Linked DNA regions of Homo sapiens. The protein of the gene in region 3 interacts with the protein of the main gene of each other region in a biochemical or structural test. Each region holds a gene or a part of one and is shown on either strand. Other genes may lie near its edges. The genes, in order: MAST1, LNX2 and NOSTRIN.

What was found.
Region 1: the proteins of NOSTRIN (region 3) and MAST1 interact in a test that uses a peptide from one of them, tested with the Homo sapiens proteins (one large-scale study listed by IntAct).
Region 2: the proteins of NOSTRIN (region 3) and LNX2 interact in a test that uses a peptide from one of them, tested with the Homo sapiens proteins (one large-scale study listed by IntAct).

Annotation. Positions count from the first base shown.
Region 1 is NC_000019.10:12,869,513-12,872,642, reverse strand, and holds part of MAST1 (microtubule-associated serine/threonine-protein kinase 1), read right to left. Parts: intron 1,820-3,130; coding exon 1,697-1,819; intron 1,608-1,696; coding exon 1,471-1,607; intron 1-1,470. UniProt on the Homo sapiens protein: Microtubule-associated protein essential for correct brain development. Appears to link the dystrophin/utrophin network with microtubule filaments via the syntrophins. Phosphorylation of DMD or UTRN may modulate their affinities for associated proteins.
Region 2 is NC_000013.11:27,561,438-27,565,098, forward strand, and holds part of LNX2 (ligand of Numb protein X 2), read right to left. Parts: intron 1,345-3,661; coding exon 976-1,344; intron 1-975.
Region 3 is NC_000002.12:168,863,665-168,866,014, reverse strand, and holds the end of NOSTRIN (nostrin), read right to left. Parts: exon of another isoform or gene 1,182-2,350; coding exon 1,045-1,181; 3' UTR 630-1,044; coding exon of another isoform or gene 619-629; 3' UTR 501-618; downstream 1-500. UniProt on the Homo sapiens protein: Multivalent adapter protein which may decrease NOS3 activity by inducing its translocation away from the plasma membrane.

The DNA.
Region 1 (3,130 bases), on a different chromosome or scaffold from region 3:
GGGATTACAGGTGTGAACCACCTCGCCCGGCCAAAAACAACCTCTTCTAGTCCTGCCCACCCCTCTAGTCCCTCCGTCTTTCACTACAACCCACCTATCAAGACAGAACTTCCCTTAACTCAGTGCTGCTTGGCTCCTCCCTCCTCCCACTTCAGGTCCTGCCCAACCTTTTGGCCACTCCCAGTCCAGGCTAGAAACACATCCAAACAAAACCAACTTGGTCCCACCTGCCTCTAGTCCCGCCTCTTCCACTACAACCCACCTATAAGAGTGGGAAGAAATGTACTTATCTCAACCCCGTCTGGCTCCTCTCACCCAAATCCCTGTACTTGTCTGGGCCAAACTCACTGATCAAAACAGAATACTAAAAACAAACAAACAAACAGAATACCCTTCTGGCCCCACCCACCTCCCACCTAGCTCCTCCTATCTATAAGGGAAAATAGGATTTCAGTTGGCTGAACCTTGCCTGGCATGCTCATTCCAGATAGACATTTCTTATTCTAGCCTTTCCCAGTTCTGTCTAAACACATCTAACAGGATAGGACCATCTCCTGGACCCCCTCCGTCTCTGGACATCTCCCTTTCCAGTTCACATCTCCTGGGCCTGCCTATATGTGCAAGACCCTCCTACAATGCTTTTCTCTGATCCTAGAAATTTGGCACAGCTTCCATTCTTGGCTCCTTCCACTTTTACAGCCCCTCTTTTTTTTTTTTTTTTTTTTTTTTGAAAGAGTCTAGCTCTGTTGTCACAGCTGGACTGCAGTGGTGAGATCATAGCTCACTGCAGCCTCGACCTCCCAGGCTCAAGCAATCCTCCCACTTCAGCCTCCGAGTAGCTGAGACCACAGGTGTGTGCCACCAAACCCAACTAGTTTTTTAAGTTTTTTGTAGAGATGGGGTCTCTCTATGTTGCCCCTAATCTTGACTCCTGGGCTCAAGTGATCCTTCTGCCTCAGCCTCCCAAAGTGCTGTGATTACAGGTGTGACTCATCCCAGCCCCTCTTTTTTTGTTTGTTTGTTTGTTTGTTTGTTTGAGATGGAGTCTCACTCTGTTGCCCAGGTTGGAGTGCAGTGGCACAATCTTGGCTCACTGCAACATCCACCTCCCGGGTTCAAGGGATTCTTCTGCCTCAGCTTCCTAAGTAGCTGGGACTGCAGGCGAGCGCCACCATGCCAGGCTAATTTTTGTATTTTTAGTAGAGATGGGGTTTCACCATATTGGCCAGGCTGGTCTCAAACTCCTGACCTCGTGATCTGCCCGCCTCGGCCTCCCAAAGTGCTGGGGTTACAGGCGTGAGCCACCGCGCCCAGCCCGCAGCCCCTCTTAATTGTCCTCTTCCCTTTGCTTGTTGGTCATTTGTTCCCGCCACCTTTCCCGTGCTCTTCCCTTCTCCATCCTCATCTGTGCCCCTCCCGCCTAAGTTCCACCCACTGCTCAAAGACCAGGCTGTTTACGGCTGTGCCCACCTCTCCTGGCCCTCCTTGGCGGAGGGTCGCTTGTTCCTCCGAGCCATTTTAGCCTTGTAGCTGCTGCGCCTTGCGGGACCAATGCGGATAGAGGTATTTTCGAAGGGCGTTGTGGTCACTGCTACCTTGTTGCCACTCTGGGGGAAGAATGCGGGAAAATGCTCTGCTAGGGGCTGCTCAGGCCTCCCCCACCCTCCGCCCAGGGTGCCTCCTTCCCTGCACTCACCTTAAGGATCAGCTCCACGACCTCAGGATGCACCATGCCATGCACAGGCTCCCCATTCACGTGGGTGATGAGGTCCCCAGCACAGAGTCCTGCCTCCTGGGCTGGGCCTCCTTCCTCCACATGCTGGGAAAAGAGCACCCCATAGGGACAGGGTTAGTGGGATTGGTAACAAGGAAAGCTCCTAAACTTATATGCAGGACACTTAGCTCTGCATGCATTAGAATCCTCATAACACCTTGTGAAATAGTTATTATTCCTCCCCCCACATTTTTTTTTTTTTTTTGGACGGAGTCTCACTCTGTCACCCAGGCTGGAGTGCTGTGGCGCAATCCTGGCTCACTGCAACAACACCCGCCTCCCAGGTTCAAGCGATTCTCCTCCCTCAGCCTCCCAAGTAGCTGGGATTATAGGCATGCGCCACTACCTCCGGCTAATTTTTTTTTTTTTTTTTTTTGAGACGGAGTCTCTCGCTCTGTCACCCAGGCTGGAGTGCAGTGGCGCGATGTCGGCTCACTGCAAGCTCCGCCTCCCGGGTTCACGCGATTATCCTGTCTCAGCCTCCTGAGTAGCTGGGATTACAGGCATCTGCCACCACGCCTGGCTAATTTTTTTTGTATTTTTAGTAGAGATGGGGTTTCACCATGTTGGTCAGGCTGATCTCAAACTCCTAACCTCGTGATCCACCCACCTCGGCCTCCCAAAGTGCCGGGATTACAGGCGTGAGCCACCGCGCCTGGCCATTTTTTTTTTTTTTTTTTTTTTTTTTGAGATGGTGTCTTGCTCTGTCGCCCAGGCTAAAGTGCAGTGGCGCAATCTCGGCTCACTGCAAGCTCCGCCTCCCGGGTTCAAGCGATTCTCCTGCCTCAGCCTCCCAAGTAGCTGGGACTACAGGCGCCCACCACCATGCCCAGCTAATTTTTTGTATTTTTAGTAGAGAGGGGGTTTCACCATGTTAGCCAGGATGGTCTCGATCTCCTGACCTCATGATCCACCCTCCTCGGCCTCCCAAAGTGCCGGGATTACAGCCACCGCGCTCGGCCCAATTTTTGTATTTTTAATAGAGACAGGGTTTCACCATATTGGCCAGGCTAGTCTCAAACTCCTGACCTCCAGTGATCTGCCCACCTCAGCCTCCCAAAGTGCTGGGATTACAGGCCTGAGCCACTGCGCCTGGCCTATTCTCCCCATTTTGCAGATGAAGAAACAGTCTCGGCCAGGCACCGTGGCTCACGCCTGTAATCCCAGCAGTTTGAGAGGCCGAGGTGGGTGAATCACGAGGTCAAGAGATTGAGACCATCCTAGCCAACATGGTGAAACCCCGTCTCTACTAAAAATACAAAAATTAGCTGGGCGTGGTGGCGCGCGCCTGTCTGTAGTCCCAGCTACTCAGAAGGTTGAGGCAGGAGAATGGCTTGAACTCAGGAGGCAGAGGTT
Region 2 (3,661 bases), on a different chromosome or scaffold from region 3:
GCTGGCTAATACCCACAGATATAGGTCCTAATGTTGCCTTTGATTTGAGGAAATTTTAAGGCATCCAATTTCTTTAAACCTCAAGTCTATGAAATTAGACCAATATCAGAATCTCCTCTCAATACAATAAAGAGAGTTGAGACTTGAATTTTCTTATAGTCTTAAATTTTCATTGTTATTTGATTCTGTGTTGTAAACACATTCTTCAATGACTATCGGCCTACCCTACTTCCTGATCCTCAATTACATAATTCTTGGTTTCCTTTACAGTGTTTTGTTTTGCTAACTTTAAGAAAAACATCTTTTTGTTGCACCCTTATCACTGTAGAAGTTGCTCATATCATTAAATGCTATGGCATGTTGCAGAATGTATAGATCTCCTCTGGATGACTTTCCAACTTATCCATCTTCATGCTTTTATGAAAAACATGTTCTTTCTCTAATAATGACTATCCTTACTTATGTCACAAAGATGCTATGAGGACAAATTTTATCATGTATTTTAAACACTGTGAATTCCTTAGAAACAACAACAAAGCACTATAGAGATAAGAGTTATTCTTCCTCTATTTATATAGATCCTGACAGGGAGTTAAGAGACCAGGTAAGTCAGATCCTTGGTAATCACAGCTCTTTTGAGCCTCCCTTTCCTCACTTCTAAAAGGTGGACATATCATCTGCTACATCTGGCTTAATAGTAGAACCCAGGACCCAAATGAGAAATGAATGTGAAACAGTAGAGCCTACGCTCTGTAAATAACCATCCCCAAAATTCACAGGGATATAGTTTTTAGAAAAGACTATCTCCAATGAAGTTATACTAGTGTGGATTTTAAAGAATTCAGGTAGCCACACCCGATTTTCTAATGAAATATAAAATGTCCCCTGAATTCTGATGTTATTGGCCAGTGAAAACAAATACTACTATATGATCATTTCGGCCAAGCCTTTGGAATGAAGGCCAAGAGGGTTTACCTGAATAATCTGGGCAGCAAGCTCCGGAGTTCCATACTTCAGGTCGTGCCCATTGATGGCCAGCACTCGGTCATTGCTGCTTAGCCTGCCGTCCTGGGCAGCCAACCCCCCTTCCAACAGGTCAAGAATAAAAACCCCTGGCTCATCTGTCCTTCGCACCAATTTAATGCCAAGCTGTTCACCAGAGTCCCGTTTATGAAGAGCCACTTGGAAAATCTCTTCTCGTGGAGAGTTACTATCAGAATGGTTGTGTGCTCGGTTGCCAAAGCGCCTCTCTCGAAGCACAGTAAGATGCAGTGTGTTGCAGGGCTGGGAAAGGACAGCTCGGGCATAGTTATGGGACACATTGCTGATATTGTAGTTGTTGACCTAGAAAAAAAGAATTGTGACCGAAGTGTGACAACCTTTTATTTTTCCAATTTGTAGGAATGTTTATGTGACATTTCCACAGGAAACTAAGTATTGTGAGAGTGCTAAGTATGGTGAGAATGCTATACAATCATTATTTACAAAGAAAACCACATTAAAGACATTTAAAAACAGAGTTTCTAATATTAACTTACAGTGACTAGCATCAAGGAGAGAATAGTAGCTAGGATCACGGGCTTTAATGACGGTCTTGAATTAGAGTCCTAGGTACTACCATTTACTAACTGATAACTTAGGCAAATTATAGAACTTGTCTGAATGAGTCTCCTCATCTGTAAAATGTGTTTACTTCATGGGATCAGTATGAGAATGAACAGATTAACATGGGGCAAGTGCTAATGAAATAAATACTAATTCTAGTGGAACAGAAATTTAAGTTTTACTAGATTACAAATTTGCTTCTTCCAAATTAAATACACTTAAGCTAGAGAAAATAAATTGTTATTTTAAGGAAAGTAGCACATTTCAGGTATACAAACTTATTTTAGATAAGTGACTTTTACCTGAAAGAAAACCAGGTTAATTGTAATTTCACTCTAATTCTTCAGCACAGAAATATTAGGTTGGTGCAAAAGTAATTACGGTTTTTACCATTAAAAGTAAAATATAATGTATATCTAATGCATTATTCAATACTCATATAACATTTATGTATTCACCTTTATAATCTCAAAAAAAGTATAGTGACTGATCCTTGGGTATGTAACAGCACTTAGAAAATACACCTAACTTCAATTATTTCTTTAGTTACAAGAGATGAGCATGATTCTTAGCATTTATCACAATTAGAGTTCTTCTCTGAATCGGTCTGAGATGAAACCAACATCCTCTGACCATCTGTTATATGACAGGCTCTGAGTTAGGTGTTTATGATCACCTAAAATTCTTACATCTTTTTCACACAAATCCACATTAGGCAAGACTTTCCTCTTCCTATTGACTTAGGATTGATAGTTGTAAATACTATTTTGAATTTTGTTGATTTTGACCTATTAACACCTTTCAGAATTCAGTCACCAAATGCACAGATGTCACACACAAACTTGCTTTCTCCCAAGTCTGCAACATCTATTAATTTGGTAGTCATCCAAGTCCTTGGTAAAAGTATTGAATAATACAGGGTCAAGAATGGAACTTCTGAAGTTCTATTATATTTAGAAAGCAGCTTCTAAAAATCCACGCAGATATAGATTCATTAGTCAAACCACCATTTCCAACTATTTAGCTACAAAGCTACCTACCTGTAGGTTCACATTTTTCTGTCTTATATTCAGACATATCACACATATCACAAATGACTTTACAAAACGTCTGGCTAAAATCCAGCCATGTGTAAACATGCAGCCTCATAACATCTTTGTGAAGCAGGCTGGGGAATATTCTACAACTGGAAAAAGATTTTTCCTCCAGGAATGCATGGTTGCCAGTGAAATTCAGAGAAAGCAGAAACCAAATAAAATATTGTTTCTAGATTTTGTAAAAATAACATCAGCATAGCAAACTATCTCATTTTTGAGCTAAATGTATTTTTTTATCAATCAACAGCTGTAATTATTTTCCTTCAGAACTGAAAATGCCATTATTGATGACTTCATTAAACTGAAAATACTTATTCTTAATAATGTTCTAAGTTATATTACTTTTATTAATGATATTGAGGTAATTTATAATAGCAGTATTTTTTTTTCTTCAAAACTGCTCAAAGAGGCTGCATATGAAACTCTAAGAGTAGCAAAAAGCTCTAACAGCATATGGTTCTCCTTTTCAAAGAGGCTATTTAATAACATTTGTATATGTAAATAAATATATATAAATGTGGGAAAACCACCAAAGCCACACACTGCTTATGTATATGGTCTGCAAAAATGAAAATGCAAGCTAGCTCTCTGGTCTGCAAATCAACCATCTTACTGCCTCTTCGAGATTTTCAAATTGGCTCACTGTGTTATATTTATTTAGCTTATACAAAGTTGGAGGTAACCAGATAGTAAAAAATACCAATAGGCCTCTTTCCAAGTGTTTACTCTTGAATAACCATAAATAGTCCATATGTGGGAAAGGGGGGTGGCTTTACTTGGCTCCAACACACCAGTTAAAAGCCAACCAGAAGTCAGGGCCTATAATAGGAGAGACCCTTTGTGAATTCATTAATCAGATTATGTGCTCAGACTTTTCTTATCAATTTGAATCATTAAACTAGATGTAAGATTGCCATTATTGGAGTTATTAGTATACAGGTTTCCATAAACAGTAATAA
Region 3 (2,350 bases):
CCTACCCATGAGCATGGAATGTTCTTCCATTTCTTTGTGTCCTCTTTTATTTCATTGAGCAGTGGTTTGTAGTTCTCCTTGAAGAGGTCCTTCACATCCCTTGTAAGTTGGATTCCTAGGTATTTTATTCTCTTTGAAGCAATTGTGAATGGGAGTTCACTCATGATTTGGCTCTCTGTTTGTCTGTTATTGGTGTATATAAGAATGCTTGTGATGTTTGCACATTGATTTTGTATCTTGAGACTTTGCTGAAGTTGCTTATCAGCTTAAGGAGATTTTGGGCTGAGACAGTGGGGTTTTCTAGATATACAATCATGTCATCTGCAAACAGGGACAATTTGACTTCCTCTTTTCCTAATTGAATGCCCTTTATTTCCTTCTCCTGCCTGATTGCCCTGGCCAGAACTTCTAACACTATGTTGAATAGGAGTGGTGAGAGGACATTCCTGTCTTGTGCCAGTTTTCAAAGGGAATGCTTCCAGTTTTTGTCCATTCAGTATGATATTGGCTGTGGGTTTGTCAGAGATATCCTACCATCCCCTAATTTGGGTTGATCTCATTGGTGTCTTGATTGCCTGTCTCTCTTCTTGGAATTGATCTGTGTTCCTCATCTCCCAGGCTCTGCTTGACCCCCTCATAGGCCTGCTGTGTTCTGTTGCCACCCAAATCCAGAGGAAAAAGACATCTAAGTCCCACTGCTGTTGTCTACCAGATAACTCTGACTTCAGGCAAGCAGCTGAACCCACCTTGGACTCCGTCTGTTTCTGTGACACCAGGGGTTATACTGGATCATCTCTAGGGTCTCCTAGAATTTGGAAACTCCTCTAGGAACCAAGGAGCCTCTTCCTTGTCTGTCTCCACCCATCCATCTTTTTTCTGACTGTTTCAAGCTAATAATCATGAATGCAAAGTGCTGTGACATGCAGGTAGAACTCCATCCATTTCAAAAGAAAAACATGTAAAGGTAAGAGCACTTTATTCTTATTTGAACCACACTGTATTGTTGATTACCGAGTGTGAAGGTAGTATGTTCAGAGTCTTGTTTTATGCCTTTGTAGCTGTGTTGCCAGCATTTGAAGGTAACTCCTCCACATAAGCGGCAGGAAAATGGCCTTTTTTCCCATTCAAAGATCCAAACCACCATCCTCCTTCTTTTTTCTCGTGTATAATCACAATGTCACCTGTGAAAATACAGTTAGACAAATGGGTCTCTGTGATGTGAACACATGCCTCAGCCCGATTGATAAGAGTTTTAAGGAGGTTCTGCTTCAAGGATTTACTTGGTAGTGTCATTTTCTGCACTTGATTCAGATGAAGCCAAATGTATCGAACACCTGTGTATAAAGCAGGCATAATCCAGAGGATACTAAAAAGAGTAAGATAATGAACAACTGAGATATATCATAAAATAATTGCTTAAAGACAGGATTGGCTGGGCGTGGTGGGTGACGCCTGTAATCCCAGCACTTTGGGAGGCCAAGGTGGGTGGATCACAAGGTCAGGAGTTTCGAGACCAGCCTGACCAACATGGTGAAACCCCTTCTCTGCTAAAAATACAAAAATTAGCTGGGTGTGGTGGCGCACGCCTGTAATACCAGCTACTCAGGAGGCTGAGGCAGGAGAATCCTTGAACCCGGGAGGCAGAGGTTGCAGTGAGCTGAGATCATGCCACTGCACTCTAGCCTGGGCAACAGCAACAGGGCAAGACTCTGTCTCAGAAAAAAAAAAACAGGATCACAGCCAGGCACGGTGGCTGACAGCTGTAATCCCAGCACGTTGGGAGGCCGCGATGGGCAGATTAGGCAGATTACTTGAGGTCAAGAGGTTGAGACCAGCCTGGCCAACATGGTGAAACCCCGTCTCTACTAAAAATACAAAAATTAGCCAGGCATGGTGGCACACGCCTGTAGTCCCAGCTATTTGGGAGACTGAGGCAGGAGAATCACTTGAATCCAGGAGACGGAGGTTGCAGTGAGCTTGGGAGACTGAGGCAGGAGAATCACTTGAATCCAGGAGACGGAGGTTGCAGTGAGCTAAGATCACACCACTGTACTGCAGCCTGGGTGACAGAGCAAGACTCTGCCTCAAAAAAAAAAATAAAAAAAGATCACGTTGGATCATATATCCTTATGCTGCCTGGCTCACTTTCTATTTCTATGTAGCTGATGGATTGTCACCAAACTCTTTCTTGGTGTCCGTACTTTGAGGGTTTCACATGCTGGTGTTTTTGATTGTTTGGCGTGTTGGCTGCTATAAGTATGTCTCACCAACAGTCTTTTCTTAAGATCAAGACAATGTCTCTGCATTATCCCTGATTTCACAGGCCAAAAGTTTAACTCACTCACAGCTT